Linked DNA regions of Homo sapiens. The protein of the gene in region 1 interacts with the protein of each later gene in a pairwise test. Each region holds a gene or a part of one and is shown on either strand. Other genes may lie near its edges.

What was found. The genes of interacting proteins can lie anywhere in the genome.
Region 2: the proteins of CCM2 (region 1) and DOK4 interact in binary tests that used the Homo sapiens proteins (3 or more experiments, as listed by UniProt).
Region 3: the proteins of CCM2 (region 1) and TWIST2 interact in binary tests that used the Homo sapiens proteins (3 or more experiments, as listed by UniProt).

Annotation. Positions count from the first base shown.
Region 1 is NC_000007.14:45,066,195-45,073,219, forward strand, and holds part of CCM2 (cerebral cavernous malformations 2 protein), read left to right. Parts: intron 1-2,248; coding exon 2,249-2,385; intron 2,386-3,631; coding exon 3,632-3,767; intron 3,768-4,194; coding exon of another isoform or gene 4,195-4,343; exon of another isoform or gene 4,344-5,555; coding exon of another isoform or gene 5,556-5,678; intron 5,679-6,531; coding exon 6,532-6,589; intron 6,590-7,025. UniProt on the Homo sapiens protein: Component of the CCM signaling pathway which is a crucial regulator of heart and vessel formation and integrity. May act through the stabilization of endothelial cell junctions. May function as a scaffold protein for MAP2K3-MAP3K3 signaling.
Region 2 is NC_000016.10:57,483,492-57,490,637, reverse strand, and holds the start of DOK4 (docking protein 4), read left to right. Parts: upstream 1-4,144; 5' UTR 4,145-4,333; intron 4,334-7,146. UniProt on the Homo sapiens protein: DOK proteins are enzymatically inert adaptor or scaffolding proteins. They provide a docking platform for the assembly of multimolecular signaling complexes.
Region 3 is NC_000002.12:238,850,676-238,857,700, forward strand, and holds part of TWIST2 (twist-related protein 2), read left to right. Parts: intron 1-388; exon of another isoform or gene 389-7,025. UniProt on the Homo sapiens protein: Binds to the E-box consensus sequence 5'-CANNTG-3' as a heterodimer and inhibits transcriptional activation by MYOD1, MYOG, MEF2A and MEF2C. Also represses expression of pro-inflammatory cytokines such as TNFA and IL1B.

The DNA of each region.
Region 1 (7,025 bases):
GAGAGTGAATCCCTGTGTCCTGGGGGCCATCTTCCTTGTTTTTGTGGATGCACCGGAGCAGTTGTGTGTCCCCTGTGTTACATAAGGTGTGCTGTGTTTATTTTTTAATTTTTAAAATATTTTAAAAATTTTTGTAAGGATGAAGTCTCTCTATGTTGCCCACGCTGGTCTTGAACTCCTGGCCTCAAGCGATCCTCCTGCCTTAGCCTCCCAAAGTGTTGGGACTATGGGCATGAGCCACTGCACTGGGCCGCCATGCTGTATTTAGGATTAGGCATCCAGAGTTCTCAGCATAAGAGACTAGCAGGTGAATAGCTAACGTTTACTTGGTGCCTGCTATGTGCAAGCAAGTCTCTGTGCCTCTTTGGACCAAAAGTACGCTGGTATTTGGGATAGCACAGGAGTGGGGAAGTTGGGGGCCAGGTCTAGCTGCAATAGGGTCCATGTGGCAGGAGCTGCTTGGAGGGTGATGACTTGAGTTGGTGCCAGATGGGGCAGGGTCACCCGTGCACCCGTGGTAGCACTTCCTGGATGATATAGGAGAGGCACACAACTCGCTGCCCGCATCCTTAGGCTGCCCACCCTGCTTCCTTGAGAACTACCACAGGCACACACCAGGGAGCCAACATTTAAAAATGTTTAAAAGGTAGAGATTTCTTACCAAACTCATACCAAAAAAAGAAAAAAAGTAAAGGGAAACCAGTAAATTTTTTTTTTTTTTTTTGAGACGGAGTCTCGCTGTGTTGCCCAGGCTGGAGTGTAGTGCCGTGATCTCAGCTCACTGCAAGCTCTGCCTCCCAGGTTCACGCCATTCTCCTGCCTCAGCCTCCTGAGTAGCTGGGACTACAGGCTCCTGCCACCACGCCTGGCTAATTTTTTGTATTTTTAGTAGAGATAGTATTTCACCGTGTTAGCCAGGATGATCTTGATCTCCTGACCTTGTGATCCGCCACCTTGGCCTCCCAAAGTGCTGGGATTACAGGCATGAGCCACTGTGCCCGCCTTTTTTTTTTTTTGAGACAAGTTTGGTGCTTGTTGCCCAGGCTAGAGTGCAATGGTGTGGTCTTGGTTCACTGCAATCTCCGCCCCCCGAGTAGCTGGGATTACAGGCATGAGCCACCACGCCCAGCTAATTTTTTTGTATTTTTAGTAGAGATGGGGTTTCACCATGTTGGCCAGGCTGGTCTTGAACTCCTGACCTCAGGTGATCCACCCGCCTTGGCCTCCCAATGTGCTGGGATTACAGCCATGAGCCACTGCGCCTGGCCAATTATTTTCAATAATATATTTTATTTACCCCTCCGTACCCAAAACATTATTACATCAGTATATAATCAATATAAAAATCGTTGAGCTACATAGCATTCTTTCTTTGCCTACCTCTGAAACCCTGTGTATAGTTTGCACTCACACATTTCAATGTGGGCTCATCACATTTTGCATACTCAGTAGTCCTGTGGCCAGTGGCTGCCATAGGGACAGAGCAGCCCCAGGAGTCTCACTGTGGGGTTTGAGGTACAGTTTCTTATGGAGCCCTTGTCTCTGTGCATGCGCTAACTTTGCATGTGGCCTGGGACGGCCTTCTTCTCCCTCCTGAGGCTGGCCTGCCCTCTGACACCCTGGCACTAGTGGCACTTCTAGGTTTTGTTTTCAGTCTTGAAGTCCTCCCAGGGTGGTCCGAACTGATGGTGAGAGCCCTGCTTCCTGGGGATTGGCCTCACTTCTGCCATCAGGAAAACCACTGAGTTACTCCATGTATTTCAGGAGAACCTCATTTGTCTAGGGAGGCAATGGGTAGGATGTTAGAAACAAGGGCACTGGGGTCTGACCGTCTAGATTGCCATGTGGACAGTGCAACTCACACGCCCTCAGGCCAGGCCTTTCACTTTCCCATGCCTCAGTTTACCCATCTGTAAGAAGGGAACTCCCCAGAACACATGGAAACCTCCTGGAGGTGACTGTTCTCAGGGTTGTATATGTGGTCTGTTGTATATGAACTTGAAGCGTGTGAAACTGCAGGATGACATGCAGCTCTGGTGCCCTTGGAGCTCAGGGGTCGCGTGTTCCCACCCTTATTTAGAGAAGCGAAGTGTGTCTGGTGCAGGCCCTTCACCTGAGTCGTTCTGTGGGTGCCTGAGCCAGGTAAAGGTCCTCTCAGCCTGTTTCCATGGCGGCCTCAGCTGTTTCCTCAAGTGCCCCCATGCCTGCCCTTCCACTGTGCTAAACTGAGATGGTGTTGACTTCTCAGCCCAGGACCCAGGGATCTCCCCCAGCCAGAGTCTGTGTGCGGAAAGTTCCAGAGGCCTCAGTGCAGGCTCCCTGTCGGAGAGTGCAGTTGGGCCCGTGGAGGCATGCTGCCTGGTCATCCTGGCTGCAGAGAGCAAGGTGAGACTTTCTCGCCCCACTTACTCAGAACTGGCTCCTCCCAGACCCTGCTCATGGCCAGCCCCACCCTGGCCACACCCAGCACAGTGCTGGGCACTGCTGGGTGCCCCAGCTACTTCCTCTGCCATTGCCTGTCCCTGCCTCACCCTAGTCTCCACCCAGCCCCACCTCTCTCTGCTCAACCCTGCCCCAGGCATTGCCCCCATCCTGGCCCTGCCCACAGCTCCTCTGCGCATGACTGCATCCCAGGTCCTGCCCCAGGCCCAGGCTCCCCACCGGTTCCCACCCCTGTGCCTTCTGACCCTCCTACCTCCAACCCCCAGCAACTTCTCTGAGACCACCTGGCCACTGAGCTTTTTGCTTATCATTCTTCAAGGTGCCCCCACGCTGATGGGCGGGCAGCGGCGGTCACCTGTGCATCCTAGACCTGCCTGGTGTTAAGGACTGTGCTTGCAGATTCCTCACAACCTGGAAGAGCCAAGGGCTGGGCCCTTGTAGGCTAGGATTTGGGGCCCCCTCAGCCACCCAATAGCTGTGGGGCCTTGGCAGTCACTTAACACCTTTGTTTAATTTCCATATCTGTAAAATGGATGCTAGTGACCACCCACCTTAAATATCCTCTAATGAGCATTTCTCAGTGTTGGTGCTACTGTCATTTTTAGCCGGATAATTTTCCATTGTGGGAGGCTGCCCTGTGCACTGTAGGGTGTTGAGCAGCATCCCAGCTTCTCCCCTTGTGACAGCTGAAAATGTCTCCAGATATTGCTACATGTCCCCTGGGAGGGGTACAAAAATTGCCCCAGTTGAGAGCCTCTGCTTTAGACAGCACACTGTTATAAAACTGTTTTATAGCTGTTAGAAATGCCTCCAGGTGGGCTGTGATACTGATGGTATCTCCTCTCACCTCTTTCCTGGGCTGGGATAGGGTTGTGAGGGTGTTGATAGGTCAGGTTAATGGAAAGAAGACGTTGGACTGGCAGCTAACACTTGTGCCCTGCACAGTCCCCTCACACTTGCAATACCACCCCTGGGCCACATGGCAGTCCTAGATAGAGTCCTGGGGCAGTTGGCTGGGTCTCTCTTTTGACACCCCTTTGGGTCAGTGAAAGGCAGAGGGACACATTCTGGTATCCACTCTTCATTCATGTTTATTGAGCATCTGGGCTGCCCCAGGTATCCTGGAAGCCGCCTGGGAAGGCGCAGTCTCCAGCCAGACTGACCGAGCAGCTGCTGTCCCCCACTGCAGGTCGCTGCGGAGGAGCTTTGCTGTCTGCTAGGCCAGGTCTTCCAGGTTGTTTACACGGAGTCCACCATCGACTTTCTGGACAGAGCGATATTTGATGGGGCCTCTACCCCGACCCACCACCTGTCCCTGCACAGCGGTATGTTGAGTGAGAGTGGGCAGCGGGTGGGAGCAGGGACAGGAGGGGCTACTGCAGTGGCCCCCAGCTCCCCATGAGTTACTCCTGGAATAGCGCAGTTACTGCCGTGACATGGTGGCCTTTTGTTTCCAGACTTTGCTGTTCACATTAGCCCATAGGGTTTCATGAAGGCAGAAGTGTCACCTGTCCTTGAGAGAGTTGCACCAGGTCAGCGCTATGGCTTCCTGGAATAAATTTGGGGTCTGTGAACACTTTTTTGGAACCACTTGTGGCTAAAGTCACTTCACTTAACTCGGAACAAAGAGCTTGGAGAAGGCTCCTAGCACTGGGGCCTGTGATGGAATTGGGGAGGCTGAGAGTGGGTCTGGGGAGCCTCCTTTTCAGTATGCCCAGACTATGGCTGCTCTTAATGTGAAACTCCTTCCAGGACCATGGCCAGACCCATGGGAAGCTGCTCAGGCTGCCCTGGGAGGCCAGCTGGCAGTGGTGGAGCAGTGGCAGATGGGGAAGAATGGAAGGTACCCCAGAGCTGTCTCTTCCTGCATGGCCCACACAGCATTTTCAGGAGTCTGTTAGTCCATTGAAAACACTTCATCAGCAAGCTCACTTGAGTTAAGTCTTCAAAAACATCATCTGTTTTTCAGATGTATTACTTATTGAGGATTAATGGGTTATATAAATTGAGGTGCATAAAAAGCTGTTGGAGGCTGGGTGTGGTGGCTCATGCCTGTAATCCCAGCACTTTGGGAGGCTGAGGCGGGCGGATCACCTGAGGTCGGGAGTTCAAGACCAGCCTGACCAACATGGAGAAACCCTGTCTCTACTAAAAAATACCAAGAAAAAAAAAAAGGCTGTTGGAAACAGTGCGGCTTGTTGAGTACAATTTCTTCTTTTTACGGAGATAAGTCCCAGCCCTCTGCCCTTTCCCCAGTAACTCGCACATCTCAGTGAAGAGAGTAAATGGTGGAGAAGCCTGTGCTGGTGTGAGGGCTGCTCCTCAGTGCCTCCTTCTTCCCTTTCTTGCTGCTGGTGCCAGAGCCCTTTGTGGGCACTACACGCCTTGTGTTGGCCCAGCAGCTGCAGAGAGACAGCTGCTGAGCTCTCAGGCATCCTCTCTATCTCATTTAGTCCTCGGTGGCCCAGCGAGATAGGTGCAATCTTCATCCCCATTTTAGAGATGGGGAAGTGGAGGCTTAGAAGTCAACAGCTTATCCAGAGGAATGTACCATATGAGTAGCAGATGATTTATCGAGCTGTAATTAAACATTCAGTTTTAGTGCGACTGGTTTGGCCCTTGTGCTTTAAAATTCCCAAAGGGCCTTTTTTTCTTTAATAATTTTTTTTTTACTGAGAAGTACACAAGTCATACATGTACAGTTGAATGAATTTTCATAAAGTAAACACATCATGTAACACCACTACTGGGGGTTGCTGAAGTGGGCTTCTTCCCCTGCCAGCCTTTCCCAAGACCTCCCCGTGGGATCCACACACAGATGTGCACACGTTACGCACATGCATGCATTCTCTGCTTATTTCTGCCTTGGAGTTTTGCTTGCTGTGTTCTCTCTACTACAGCTATGCCAAAACATAGCAGCATAAACAGCAGAAATATATTCTCTTATAATTCTATACGTTAAGAGTCCATTGTGGGTCCCACTGGGCTAAAGTTGAGGTGTCCACAGGGCTGGTTCCTTCTGGAGGCTCCAGAGAAGAAGCCATTTCCTTGTCTTTCCAGCTCCTAAAGGCGGCTGCATGCCTTGGCTCATGGCCCTTCCTCTGTCTTCACAGCCAGCCACGTGACCTCTTCCACAGTCACATCTTCCTTTGACTGTCAGCTTCCTCTGCATTTCAGGACTCTTGCAATCACATTGAGCCCACCCAAATTCTCCAGGGTCATCTCCCTATTTCAAGGTCAGCTGATAAGCATCCTTTACTCCCCTTTGAAATTGGTAACATATTCACCAATTCCAGGGATTAGGATGTGGACGTCTTTGGGGGGTCATTATTCTGCCCTCCATACTTACCTTGTTCCTAGTGCCAGAAATGTCCCTTTTATCTCTCAGCCTCTCCCTCTGCTTCATTTAAAATCTTACCCTCTCTGCAACACTCACCTGCCTCGCTCACAAAGCTTTCACTCACTGTCTGTGCTGGTGTGAAATGTGCCTTCCTCAGGTTTGAAATAGCAAATTACAGTCTGTGTCACACGGACCTAATGTCATTTGTTGAATGTAGCTGCTCAGTGCCAGACCCTTTGCTGGTCTGAGGGTCTTGGGAATCCTGTGGCTTCACTGGGTTCAGATGGGGAGTCAGACTGCCCGGCTCTGACTGTGGTTTCTGCTGTGTGACCTGGGCCAAGTTGTGTAACTCTCTGACTTACTTCCTAATCTACAAGTGAAGACAGGGGTGATATATGCCTGGGTTAAAGGAGACAAAGCCCCAGTAACCCTGCCTGGCACATGAGTGATACCTCAAAGACAGCTTTTGCTGGCTCTGGCCATGGGTGAATGTGTACTTCAGCCCAGCGTGCAGCAGGATTTGCATTTGCCAGGATCCCCAGGAGGGGTGTATGTGGGCTCAAGTCTGGGAAGCCCTGCCCTGAGGCACACAGCACATTCCAGAGTGCGGGCAGCTTGATGAAGGACAGCAGGGTCCCTGAAGACCAGGGCTGCCGCTGTCTCCTGTAAATACAGCAGTGGGCTGGACTCAAAATGCCTCCCCACTATGTCCCTGAAAGTCATCTTAGTTTTCTGCATCTTCCTTACAGATGACTCTTCTACAAAAGTGGACATTAAGGAGACCTACGAGGTGGAAGCCAGCACTTTGTGAGTGCACATGCCACCAAGCCCTGCGGTGGGACACGCACCAAATGCGTTGTCTGGTGTTGTCCAGGCTGCAGCCAGTCAGCTCCCCCATCTCAGCTCACCCTCGCTAAGCCATCCCCAGACCCACTGTACCCAGCTTAGTGAATGGCTGAGGCCTGGCTCGCCGCCCTCTCCTCGTAGACTTCTAGAGCCCTTGCTGTCCCTCTTGTCTCTCCCTGCCTACCTTCCCATGGCCTCCCAAGAGTGAGCTTGTAATAGGCATGTTGGATGGAGCTGTTCCCCTGCCCGAGCCTGCCGAGGCGCTGGCCTTCCAGCCCATCTCTGCCACCACCTGGGGCTCTGTAGTAGTTCACCCACTCGCGCTCTCCATTCCTGCCACCTCCCCAACCCTGGCTCCTTCCCCTGCCCAACAATGCTGCCCACTGCCTTGACCTGT
Region 2 (7,146 bases), on another chromosome or scaffold:
TCTCAAAAAATAAGAGAGGAGGACTTCCACAATTTGATAAAGAGCATCTACAAAAAACCTACAGCTAACGTTGGTCCTTAATGATGAAAAATTGAATGCTCTCCCCGAAGATCAGCAACAGGGTAAGGATGTCAGCTCATACTACAACATAGTGCTGAACATTTTAGCCAATGTGATAAACCACTAACAAATAGGTAGAAAAAGAGGAAAAAAACCTTTTCTACATGCAGATGACATGATTATCTATGTAGAAAATCTCAAAGAATCTACCAAAAAAAAAAAGACAAAAACCTCCTAGAACTAATATGTTCAGCAAGGTTGCAAAATATAATTATACAAAAATTATTTCCATATACCAGCAATGAACTCATTCATGGGCAGCAAAATTAAAAATGCAATACCATTTAAAATCACCAAAAATAAGTAAATAAAATAATTAGGTGGAAAGCTAACAAAATGTGTATAGGACCTGTATGCTGAAAACTCCATAATGCTGATGAAAGACATTAGAAATAAATAAATAAATGGAGAGACATACTGTGTTCTTGAATTGGAAGACTCAGCATAGTAAAAATGTCAATGCTCCCCAATTGATATACAGGTTTAATGTAATTTCTATCAGAATCCCAGCAAGATATTCTGTAGATATAGATAACATTATTCTAAAATTTACATAGAAAGATAGAGAATATTACCAGGACAGCTGAAACAATTTTGAAAAAGAGTAAGTTGGGGCTGGGCGCATTGGCTCATGCCTGTAATCCCAACACTTGGGAGGCCAAGCTGGTAGGATCACTTAAGGCCAGGAGATTGAGACCAACCTGGGCAACATAGTAAGAACTCCATCTCTACACAATAATTTAAAAAATTACTTGGGCATGGTGGTCTCAGCTACTCAGGAGGTTGAGGGTGGAAGATTCCTTGAGCCCAGGCACTCAAGGCTGCAGTGAGCTATGATCATGCCACTGCACACCAGCTTGGGGGACAGAGTGAAACCTTGTGGCAAACAAACAAACCAATAACTTGGGAGGAATTAATAACAATCTACCTCAGAGGTCCCCAATCCCTGGGCCACAGACCGGTACTGGTTGTGGTCTGTTAGGAACCTGGCTGCACAGCAGGAGGTGAGCAGCTATGAATGAAGCTTCATCTGTATTTACAGCCGCTCCTCATTGTTCACATTACCACCTGAGCTCCGCCTCCTGTCAGACCAGCAGCAGCATTAGATTCTCATAGGAACAAAACCCTATTGTGAACTGTGCATGCGAGGGATCTAGGTCATAGGCTCTTTATGAGAATCTAATGCCTGATGATCTGTCACTGTCTCCCATCACCCCCAGATGGGACTGTCTAATTGCAGGAAAACAAGCTCAGGGCTCCCGCTGATTCTACATTATGGTGAGTTGTGTAATTATTTAATTATATATTACAATGTAATCATAATAGAAATAAAGTGCACAATAAAGGTATTGTGCTTGAATCATGCTGAAAACACTCCCACAACATCCATGGAAAAATTATCTTCTATGAAACTGTCTGTGGTGCCAAAAAGTTGGGGACCACTGGTCTACCTGATTTTAAGACTTTTTTTTTTGAGACAGAGTTCCACTCTTTTTGCCCAGGCTGGAGTGCAATGGCGCGATCTTGGCTCACTGCAACCTCTGCCTCCCAGGTTCAAGCGATTCTCCTGCCTCAGCCTCCCGAGCACACGCCACCACACCCAGCTAATTTTGTATTTTTAGTAGAGATGGGGTTTCACCATGTTGGCCAGGCTGGTCTTGAACTCCTGACCTCCAGTAATCCATCCGCCTTGGCCTCCCAAAGTACTGGCATTATAGGCATGAGCCACTGCTCCTGGCCTTAAGACTTACTATATAGGCATAGTAATCAAGACTGTTATTAACAGAGAGATAGACATGCAGATCAGTGAAATAGAACAGAGAATCCAGAAATATGTCCAACTGATTTTTTACGAAGTTGCAAAAGCAATTCAATGAGAGTCTTTTCACCAAATAGAGCTAGAACAATCAGACATCCACAGGCAAAAAAAAAAAAAAATGAAATCAAACCTAAACCAAAAAAAGACATCAAAACCTCTATCAAATCTCACACTTCCTATAAAATTCAACTCAAAATGGATCACAGACTTAAATGTAAAATAAAATTATGGAACTTTCAGAATAAAACACAGGAGAAAATTCAAAGAGTTTTTAGATTAGGCAACAAAAGTGTGATCCATAAAAGGAAACATGGATAATTCAGACTTTATCGAAATTTAAAACTTTTGTTTTGTGAAAGACTCTGTTAAGTGGATGAAAAGACAAGCCAAAAACTGGGAGAAAATATTTGCAAACCACATATTCAACAAAGGACTAGTAGGTAGAATATACAACTCTCGAAATTCAACAGTAAAAAAGCAAATCATCACATGGGGTGCAGTGGCTCATGCCTGTAATCCCAGCACCTTGGGAGGCCGAAGCAGGTGGATTGCTTGAGCTCAGGAGTTTGTGACCAGCCTGGGCAGCATGGTGAAACCCTGTCTCTACAAAAAAATCCAAAAAATTAGCTAGGCGTGGTGGTGCACACCTGTAGACCCAGCTACTGAGGAGCCTGAGCAGGGAGGATCACTTAAGCCCCGAGGCAGAGGTTGCAGTGAGCTGAGATCACACCACTGCACTCCAGCCTCAGTAACAAAAAAAGAAGGCTTTTTATTGTGAAAATTCATTTGTGTTGTTGTTGTTGGCCAAAGCTCCCCTAGAGGTTTCTGGTGTTGAAAAACAGTTTGCTATGATGAATCAAGTGCTGGGAGCTTTAGGGGCTGTGGTTTGAAGCAAAGCAGGTGAGGTCAAGTTTGAAAGACGCATAGGGAGGTCAGGAGGTTGAGGCCCAGGCTAGCTTGGCCATGGGCCTGGGGCTGGTTAGCTCAGGCTGATCACAGACACCACAATGACCATCAGGGAAATTTTCAGACATCCAGAGGCAGCCTCCTTTTAAGCTCCCTGGGCAAGGCTGAGGCCCAGGCGTCTCCGGGGCAGGGGCATGCATTCCATGGGTGGGTGTTGGGATCCTTGGTCCCTCACTGCTTTAGGCCTATTCCTCTGAGACACCTGGACAGTAGCTGGATGTGGAGGTATTTTCATTTCTCAGGATTTTGGCTGTTCAGGTGGCCTATTGTTTTGTTTTGTATATATGGTCTAAAGCAGTGGTTCTCACACATTCGTGTGCATCAGAATCACCTGGCCTGTTAAAACACACATTTCTGCTGGAAACCCCCAAAAATTCTGATTTCATAGGTCTGAGTAGGGCAGGGAATTTGCATTTCTAACAAGTTTCAAGGTGATGGGAAGCTTCTGGTCCAGGGACTACACTTTGAGAAGCCCTGGTGTAAAAAGGTACAGACGTGAAAACCAGAGGGGGGACAGCTCCTCCCCAGAGGAGGCACTGGGCAACTTCTCTTGTCCCTGCCTGGCACAGCTGAGGCCTGTGACTGGGGATTCCGACAGATCAGTGAGTCAACCACTGCACAGGCCCGAAGGGCAGAGGTGAGGGGGTTGGGGGCTGGGTGGGGGCAGCAATGAAGGGGAATGAAGTTTGAGCTTGAGGGCAAAGTCTCAGGGGGACCTAGAATGGGAGAACTGGATGTTTTGAGGGTGGAGAGGAGACCAGGGAAGACAGAGGTGCTGGTGCGGCTACTTGAGGAGGGGTAGCAGAGGAGGTCACTGTGGGGCTGGGAGAGCTGGGCTGTGAGGGCCCAGAGAGTCATGATGGGGTTAGGGGAGCAATGGGTGTGTATGTGATTCCTGAAGAAGTGAAGGAATTGAGATATGGGGGCTGGGAGCTGATGTGGCGTATGGGTGTGTATGTGATTCCTGAAGAAGTGAAGGGGTTGAGATGTGGGGGCTGGGAGCTGATGTGGAGTTCAGCTTTCAGGGGCTGAGAGGCCATGTGGGCTTTGGGGCCCAGGGAGGGGCGGTGGGAATGAGCTGGGGGTACCGGGGGCGACCTGAAGCGGGTGCGGGGGTGCCAGGGCGCCAGGGCAGAATCGCGCGTCCCGCGGCTCGGAGGAATACGGCGGGGGCCGGCCGCCAGGGCGGGGCAGGGGGCGGGGCGCAGCGGCGAGACCTGGCGGAGGGGGGAGCGGAGCGGAGTCCCAGCCGGAGCCCCAGCCGGAGCCCGATCCCTAGCCCTGCGGCCGCGCCTCCCTCGCCGTCCCCGCCTGGAGCCCGGCGCCGCCGCCGCCCTGCCGCCCCCGCCAGCCGCGCCGTGACGCGGGCATGAGCCTGCTCCGCGGCGCCGCTGAGCAGGCGCTCCTGGCCCGGGCCTCGGCGCCCAGGTAAATTGGGGGGCGTGAGGCAGGGAGGGGGACATAGGCCGCCCAGAGCCTGCAAGAGTCTCGGCGACTCCCACCCCTGAGGACCCTCAGTCACTTCCTGAACCTGAGGACGCTCCGTCCCATGGGACCTTCCTACTCTCGGGTGGGGAGCTTAGAGACCCGCCCCCCAAAAGCCAGTGCCTGGGCCCTGAAACTCCCTGCGCTCTCTCCACCCGCAGCTTTCCTCTCCGGGGGAGCCCAGGTCGCGAGCTGACCTCACCCGCACCCACACAAACCTCATCCGAGCAACCCAGGCCCTGCGCTCCCGGGCCTGCCCCCCCGGAAGGGGCATAACCCAGCCCCTGGCAGCTCCCAACCTTCTCTCTGCCTTCCTGCTCCTCCCCGGGGCCTCCTGTTCGCTCACCTCCTCCAAATTCCAAGAGATGATTTTCTGTACCCCAGCTGGCCCCCACTGCCGACCCCCTCCTGCCTATGGGGTTTCTCCCCACAGCCCAAACTCATGGCCAGCTGCCTCCTGTCCTTGAACCTTTCTCCATTGGCCCCCAAGGTCCTGTCCACCTTCTCCCCCAGGGCCCGCAAGGCCCTAGATCCAGTTACATGCTTTCTATTACTGAAAAGGGGCATGAGCCGAGGCTGGGCACCTGGGTGATGTGGCAGAGCAGGGGCTCTGTGCAGCCTGCCTGCCCCAAGCCATGGGGACACGTCAGTTGCTGGGGCGCTTCCGCTTGGATGGAGGGTGTGGGTTGGAGGGGTCTGATGGCCAGGGCAGCGAGGGGCCTGGCAGTATCTCTAGGAGACTCCACTTGGGCAGTGTGAGGTGGGCTTGCTTAGGGCAGGTTCTTTCCTGGACCCTTTCAGAGGGATGTGGCGCTGGTACAGGCTCTTCCTGCCCCCACCCCCAACTCTGATCCCAGGAGCTGTGCCTCCTCTCCCCAGTTGCTTGCCTTGCTGTGCTGGTACTGGTTACTCCCAGCACTTCCCTCCTGGGCAGGGCAGCAGGGCTGGGCATGACCTCACCCCACAACCCTGGCCAAGGTGGGGCCGCCCAACTAGGCCTGGCCTCGATGTCAGCAGCATGCTCTTCCCTGAGGCAGCTCTGAACCAAACTGCGGGTCTTGGGCACAGCTGGTTCTCCAGTAACAACAGCCTGCTGGCCATGCCAGTCAGCGCTGAGACCCAGGAGCTGGGAGCCCACTGTGGCTCACGCACCTCTGGAAGCTGAGCCAGGTCCAGCCAGATGGAGGCTGGTGGTGGTGGAAGAAAGGATGGGGAGGAGGACAAGTCCTGGAGAGAATTACGTGTTCAGCCCCCAAATATTGAGCATCTCCTTCCCACCGGGCACCATTCTGGGAGCTGGGATAGAGCTGTTAACTAGACAGACGAGGCCGAGCCACCAGGGAGCTGACATTCCAGATGTCTCTCTGTGGCCAGAAACAAATGGACAGATGTAAGAACAAGAAAATCCCATGGTGATGTGCGATGAAGACAGCCGCATCTGATGTTGTGAGAGAGGCTGACTAGTGGGGGTCCTTTGGTGAGGGTAGTCAGGGAAGGCCTCCTGGAGGAGGTGGATGAAGCAATGGAATGAACCATGAGCATGTGAGGGAACAATGTTGTAGGTGGGAAACAGCTAGTGCAGTGGTCCCTCGAGGGAGGGGTTTTGGCATGTTGAGGGGTGGGCAGGGGACCCAGGAGAACCAGAGTGGTACGGGGCCACAGCATTACTCTCCTGGCTTAAGGGTCTGGGGGACCATGGCTGTTCAGATGTCCCCTCCTTCTGCCGTCCCTGTCTGCCTAGATGGGTATTTGGTCTGTCTTTGCCATCCACCTTGATGGGACTCACCATGTTTTGGCCGGTGGCCCCTATGGGGATCTGTTGGGAGCACTCCCAGCCGGCCTCTGACAACAATCTTGGGGTGGGGTGGGGGCAGAGCAGCAGGTGATGGGAAATGGCTCTGGTGCTGGAGAGAATCCCACAGATCCAATCTTCGCCGTTGGATCGAGACAGCCAGACGACACTGAGATGGTGTCCAGGTAGGGCTGTTCCTGCAGCCCTGATAAGATCCGATCTGTCAGGGGTGGGGAGGCCCAGCCAGGCAGGCAGCCGCTCGCTCAGTCATTGGTTGCCAGCCTCAGCGCGTTTGTTCTGGAGCCAAAGCCTCCAGGCAGAATCCATGTGCGAGAGGGAGTGCTCAGCATGGCTGCCCTGTGGGGCAGGTGGGCAGTGAGGGCCCTGGGAGTCTCCCTACTCCCCGCCACCCCAGGACACCAGCCCTTCCTGGGGAGAGGAGCATTTTGGAGCTGGCTCTCCCTGCGCGGAAACCTGTGGTGGCCTGGCACCAGGCAGGTACTGTCCCTGGGTAAGCAGCAGTATTGGTACCAGGCTGGGAGGTGGGATGCGGGGGGCCCTTGCTCCCCTCCTCCCTCACTGGAACCCTGAGAGCGACTGCTGGACACCGTGCTTAGCTGGGAGCTCGGAGCTCACAGTGCTGGGGAAGGACCCAAGACCTCAGGTCCTCTCAAAGTAGCAAGCATTCTTCCTGCTGCAGGCCTGTTGGGGACAAGGGCCTGAGGGACAAACAGGGCAGGGGCTACTTCAACCCAATTCCTGGCCTGCCTAGCCTCAGCTGCCCTCCAATTTTTGTATTTTTTTAATTGATTTTTTTGAAATTTTTTAGAAACAGTCTCACTCTATCACCCAGGCTGGAGTGCAGTGGCTTGATCATAGCTCACTGCTACCTGGAATTCCTGAGCTCAAGTGATCCTCCCACCTCGGCCTCCCCAGTAGCTGTGACTACAGGCACGTGCCACAT
Region 3 (7,025 bases), on another chromosome or scaffold:
TACATGTAATAAATAAATAAAAACAGTGCCAAGAGCTTGTTTGGAAAAAAGCCCTTGAAAATATAATAGATAATTACACAGTTAGTGGGAGAGCTGATGATCTATAAGGAGCCTATTTATTTTTATTTTTACATACTGGACTATAACTGAGTAGTTCAAACAAGCTAGTTTCATTAAATAGATACTCTAAAAGAAGAGAAAAGAAATATGGAAAAATTTTATCCATGAATGATTCTGGACACACCTTGTTTTTATTTATCAGGCACGTTAGGCAGACATCTTGTCATTCTTTTTGTCTTTAACTCATTATTCCCTATAAGATCAATACGATTATAATTGGTTTGATTTCCTGAAAATGTTGCTAAACAGCATTTGTTTTTATTTGTAGCATTTCTAAGAAGCATTAATTATATGCATCAGCAAAGAATCTCTAGACATTTCAGTACATTGTAAGTGATTTTAATGTTTGATGTGGGATGTTTTCACGTATGTGAAGAAAACTGTCAAGACTAACAGCAACAGCAGCACAAAGCCTAAATTGTCCTCTGAAAGGAAGAGAAACGCAAGAGATGGTGGAGTGCGGGTGCTGCCGATATCTATCCTGCCTTTCTTCTTTGGCCTGGTATTTAAAAGCACAATTAGACAATAAATCAGGTGTCTTTGTCCAGTCAGTTGGATTCATCTAATAGAAAAATCTCAAAAGGATTTTTTTAGTATTCTCATTAAATGCCTGAGTCTTCGGAGCAGGGTCCCAGACACCTGGCTTGGAGGGTGGGGGAAGGTGACCATTACTTATCAGACATTTGTCCTGTTCCCTGCTGTGTGGTTAAAGAAAACATCTTCTCTAACTTCTGCATAGTGTGCACAGATTTTCAGTAGATTTCCTCACTCAACAAACTTTTTTTTTTCTGAGAACTTTTAGCTACTTTGAAGAAATTGCATGACCCCTTCACCATCTAATATATGTGAGCCTTTTCCTCCCTCCTGAAAATTTACTTCTCATAGGTGTTTGTTAACTGCTGTATTCAGGATGCTAGAAAATCAGTTCTTCGTGGAGAAGAACAGAAATGCAGAATCCCAATGGAGCTTTTGCTTGCCTAGAAGAAGTAGAATGAAAGGCTGAGCTCCCTGGAATATAAGCAATGTTTGGTTACAAAATACCCATCAATAAGATCTGATGTAGGGATTTGACCTGTTAATGTGGGTCTTTCCCCTTAAATATCAGCAGTCCTTTCGGCCTTGCATCAGGGAAGTCTTGCTACTCATCTTGCTGGAGAGGGAATTCCTCAGACTTCAGTGGCTCTTTGAGGCCATTTGAGATAGAATACTTCACTGAGGTTTCCTGAAACTCATATTTTCATACAGATCTTGAGCTGAACCATGTTCTTGTCATCCTTGCTTCACTCTGTTCTGGGTAGACGGCACAGATGCCGGATTCCTTTTGCCTGGCAAAAAAATTTAAAAAAAGAAAAAAAAACACCACACACATAAAGTAAACTCTTTCTGAGCAGAGCACTATAACTCATAACTTTAGTTTAAATCTGGGCTTTAAAAAAAACAAATATTTTAATAAGCCAATTTTAAAGGCTGAACTTTTATGACGGTTTTTAAGCTTAGTATTTATATTAATCTATTCTCACTGGTGTCTTTAAAAACCCTGTGAATGCATGCTGGAATGTCTGTTTATGTTTGTGTCTTTTCCTGGGAAAGGATAAATGTGCTGCAAAAAGCAAACCAAATACAGAACTCTCCGCTAGCAGAGAGTTCACAAATGAGGCAATAAAATTCAAAGAAGAGATGAATAAGTTACTGTAGCCAAGGACTGGAAAACCATAAAGGAGAAACAGAATCTAAGAGATACAGACATGGATGCTTTCAAACGTAAAGGCAAGATGAAACACTACAAACAGAAACTGATTAAAAAGATATTCCACATGGTCACCTGAGTCTACACGTGATAAAATTGCATAGCACTAAACACACACACACACACGCACATGCACGTGCACACACATGTACACACGAGTGTATGTAAAACTGGTGAAATCTGAATGAGGTCTGGGGACGATATTGACGCCAGTTTCCTGATTATGATAATTGCAAGATGTCATCACTGGGAGAAGGGAGTGAAGATATGAGAATCTCTGTATAATATTTCTTGCAACCTCATGTGAATCTATAATTATCTCAAAATTAAAATAAAAAAGATATTCTACAAAAGTATTAAATCTATATATTTAGATAAGCAAATTATCTAAGAAATTACTACTAAGATTTATCTCAGAGTAATAAACTAAAAATGTGACTTGAGCAAAACTCCACATATTTTTTCTGACGCCATTTGAGGAATCTCAATATATTTCCAATATATAACTAATTAGAAGTGGTTCCCTGTAAGTCTTAAATAAAGAATAGTATCCCAGAAATATGAAAGGTGAAATACCAATTATAATAGCAATACATTTATTCCTATACTAATAAAGAAAATATTTTACACAAAATTTTGGGAAATATCTACCTTAAACTGATACCTGTGTTATATTTGCTTTTTAAGATACTAATTTTATATTAACTTTCATTAAGCATACACACACAATTCTAAAGCCAATGATTTATAAAAATTATTCGCCAAGAAGTATAGAGATTGAAGTTTTAGTATTTGGAGCCATAAGCAGTGAGAGGGAGAGGATATAGCAGAGGAGGGAGGGAGAGAGAGAGAGAGAGAGAGGGAGAGAGGGAGAGATGGAGAGAGAGAAGGAGAGAGGGAGAGATGGAGAGAGAGAGAGAGAGAGAGAGAGAGAGAGAAACTCAAACCCTAAGCCCAGTTATAGTTATTTTTAATGAATAATTGTTTAGAAACATATTTTCTGTTTTTGTTTGGTAGTAACCCTTTGGATGAGATTGAGTGATATTAAACTATGCCTTACCTGAATGCTGATTTGGAAATGAGGGCGGTAGCATTAACAAGGTGAATTTTAAGCTCTTGTAAACTGAGGCACAGTGTGATTTCTCTTCAGCGATTATTAATGGTTGTCACTTCGAAAAGAGACTTGGATCTGAAATTGGAAAAGCCAACACATAACTTGATTCCAGCATGAGGAAAATGTTTTAGTGCTTAGTTAAAAATAGAGTCATTTTGAACCCAAACGGTATCTGACGTGCTTCAGATATCTGGGCTATTTCATCCTCAACTGTGGTGTGATAATATGATGATCCTGTGGTGATGAAGATGAGAGAGCGCGGCTGCGTGAGCTGAGTGCAGTGTCTGCTTGTCTACCGGGGCTGTCCCTCACTGAGCGGTTTTCTATCCTAATATTGTTTTCCTCTGTTATTTGACCAGGGAAAGATTCAGATGACCCAGCTTCTGTCGAAGCCTCATGGAGAACTATAGTTTTACTTCTCAGACCCGAAGAGCAGTGCCTTTAAACTTGGACACATCTCTCCTTTCTTTAGTTCAGATTTTCCCTTCACTGAAATGAAAGACAGGGTTGAACTCAGAAGAGCTTTCGGTTATCACATTCGATTATCCTGGAAAATACTCCTGTCTTTTTAGTTCACATTCTGCCTTAAAAAAATAGCCATCAGTATCTTCTGGGAGGAAATGGTAAATTTTGTTATGTGGTCTGGCATTAGAGTCCTAATTCTCACTGTCTAATTTGACAGACGGTTCACCTCTGTGTCTCTGGATGTGCAGGTCTGGTGTGCGACTGACGGGAAAGATTTGGGCAAACCCCTTGATTTGTATTAACCCTTCGACCTTGACTAAACATCAGACCCCACCCTGTGGCTGAGGTCTGTGGTGTGGTCACAGGCAGAGTCTTTCCGGAGCACCAGGCAGAGCAGCTCCCCCCAGGAGGGGTTAGGGCAACTTTTTGGCCTTTTGCTGTGAGAGGGGAGGGTTAGAGATCCTTTTGCTCTCTTCCCCGTGGAGAAAAAAATGTTGAAACTTTCGTCGTTACTACTGTTTTTCTGTCGCTATCCAGACAAAATGCCACCCTAGCATTTCTGTTAAATCTCTGTAAGTAGATGCCCCTGCTGAAGGGTGGAGAGATTTTGGCCCGCTTCCGAGGCAGGGGCTCCATGAGGGACAGCTTGGAGCATGAACAACCTCCTAAAGGAAAGCACAGGCCAGTCATGTACAATCTCGGGCTCTGCTGCCACGGCAGCTTTCTTTGTCTGTTCTACTTTGAATTAGCATATTCTGTATGTGAAAATGCAAGCAGGCAGCGTTTTCTTTGAATCACGAGATCTACAAGTACCGTTTCCTTTCCTTCATCTCTGCTCTTTGAGTGGTTCGTGTGGCCGGTGCTCAGAGGGCTCGGAGTGGCAAGCTGGCTGCCTGCGTGGACTCCCTGGACCTGCGACTTGTCCTTTACTTCCACAACTCAGACTTTTAGCTCGGCGGAAGAGTGCACAGGCGCAGCGCAAGCTAGCTAGCCTGCAGGGTTGGCAAAACCTATACCGACTGGGTCCCTTCCGGAAAGTTTGTGTGAACTTTAAATCTCAGTCTCAGGGAGACTGTTTTGTCTTGATACATAACAGAATAAGGCAGTTATCATTTCTTTGGGAAATGCCTAAAATACCGCAAATTGGAAGGGAAGGGAAAGGAAGGAGGAGAAGGCATACTCCTCTTTCTCAAATCGGGCATCTACACGTCTCTGTTCACATCATTGACACCAATGGGCGAACAGTGTCTTCATTGAGGATTAATTTTCCTGAAATCAAATAATCCCAAATTGCATACTACATATATACTGGTTTCTAACTAGTCAACATCTTCAACATATGCCCAGCCGCCTGGCTTTCCTCTCGTTCATGATAATCTGCATGCGTAGATGGGAAGCTAGGAGAGAAAGATGTGATCATTTCGCATTCCTTGTTTTCTGTCTGGTGAACATTTCTTCTCCAGCAAGTGTTTCCTACCGCTTCCCCCAAACCTGCATATACTCTTCTATATTCTTTAGTTGAAACAGCATCTTTTAAAAACATGATTAACTGAAGTCCGCTTGAGGTTTCACTTTATAAAAAAGTAATAGAGGAAGAACGAGAAGCCCACCATCAGGTCCCGTGATAGCTCAGTCACACGTGGAAATACAGACTGTAAATACAGAATGGCCGAGGACCCTCTGAGCAAAGGTCATCTAGGGGCTCCCGAAGCCTCGTGCGGCCCATAGATGTGTGCTCAGCACCCCCGCCTCAGTGTGTGCTTGGCGACTCCCTCTCCTTCGTGGGCTCATGTTACTATTTTCTAAAAGTATTGTTTCACTGATACCAGAACAGGAGTGCTCCAAACAGATATCTGTACCCTAAGAATCCCAGGGTGCCCTGTTTTTGTTGATTTCTCTGGTGCAGAAGGACCTGTTTCCACGATCCCCAAACTCCCTGGGGGCCGTGCGGTGGCTGTGGCAGAGGGGGTGCATCCAGGACTGGCGTTTTATGGCCCCCGAGGTAGGGTCAGGAGAGAGCTTATCTTGAGGTCCCGTCTTGTGTGACTGCGAAGGTGTTAATAGGCAGGGTCCAGGTGGCCCATGCGAGCTGGCAGCATTGGAAGGGTAGAATTAATTGAAGGGCATTTTACTGGGTGTTAAATTATTGCTAATTCCAAAACTTTCTTTCAGACTATTTTTTTCTGAGAATAGAGATTTCCTTCTAATTAAACAACAGGCAAAAGATGAGCACGGTTACTCACCTCTCTGCTCGTTTCAGTGTTGCTGTATGTCATCTCCTTTCTTGTTTTACTACAGTTCACAAGTGAATAATATCATGTAATTTCAGTGTGGAACAATGTAATTTCCATGTGCGTCCCCAGCAACCCTGTGTACATTAGTCTATCATTTATAATTTATAACATGGAAAAGTTTTTTTTTTATGAAGGACAAAATAAAAGAGAAGGTTAGGATGTGAATAGGTCAAGTGATATATGAAGAATTTCACAAGGGATCAGGGCTACGGAAGGGACTCAGGTCTCTTAAGAATAGGTCCCATTCTGTATTTATCTTCAGGATTGTGTTGGGGCCGTGTGCCTCTCTCTGCTGCTGGCCATGGGAGACCCGGCACCTCTTCCTCAGTGTCCCTCAGAGACATAGAAGACAGCAGTTTCTCAGAAAAAGCACCCTTCCTGCCGTTCTCAGAAAAACAACACTGTGAAAATCCAGCAGGGCCCCTCCACACTGCTGCAATAGTGCCACGAGGGAGGCCGCTGCAGACACAGTCACTTGAAGAGGACCTCAGGTGCCTTCCCTTCCTGTTTGGTCCCAGGCATCAACACTGCCCAGCAAAGTGTGTCCAAGAAGCCCCAGAGGGGGCCGTGTCTCTGAGGGGCCTGTGACAATCGCAGGTGATTCAGATGCCAGAGAAAGCAGAGGCCCCCAGAGGAAGGTGGTCAGGGGGCCATCTGCTGTGCCTGGGGTCAAGGACCACTGGAGGGAGCTTGGGTTGGCCTGAGACTGTTCAGGGGAGGGGCACCATGGGCATGGTGCCCCTGCATGACGGGCGGGCCCTCCCATGAGAGAGGAAGAGGGGAGCAAGAGGAAGGACGCTGCTGGCTGTTTGCAAGTAGCTGTCCCACCACCCTGGCACTTCCCTGGTCCCTGAGGCTGGACGGGCCTTGGAGCCCATCTTCGCTAAGGCCCAAGTCACCTATCAGCTCGTGCTGATGAATGTCTGAGCATGAGCCCAGCACGGCTCAGCATTTGCCAAGGTTAAGGAAAGGAAGTGGTAACTCAGCATTGATTTCCTCCCCCTGGATTTAATAGCGATAGATCTAAACCTGCAGTCAGATATCACTTTGAAAGCCTTGGCTCATCTAAAGACAGCTTCCAAGAGACGATCAGGCCAGGCCACTGCTGCGGTTTGCAGAGGAAGCAGGACCAGCCCTGTCTTTGCTGAAAGAAGCCAAACGACCATCTTGTCTGTCTCGTAAAGCATCCTTCTGCTTGAATAGCAGAGCTCTTTGAACGGCAATAAAATATTACATTGAGGCTGGGCGCAGTGGCTCATGCCTGTCATCCCAGCATTTTGGGAGG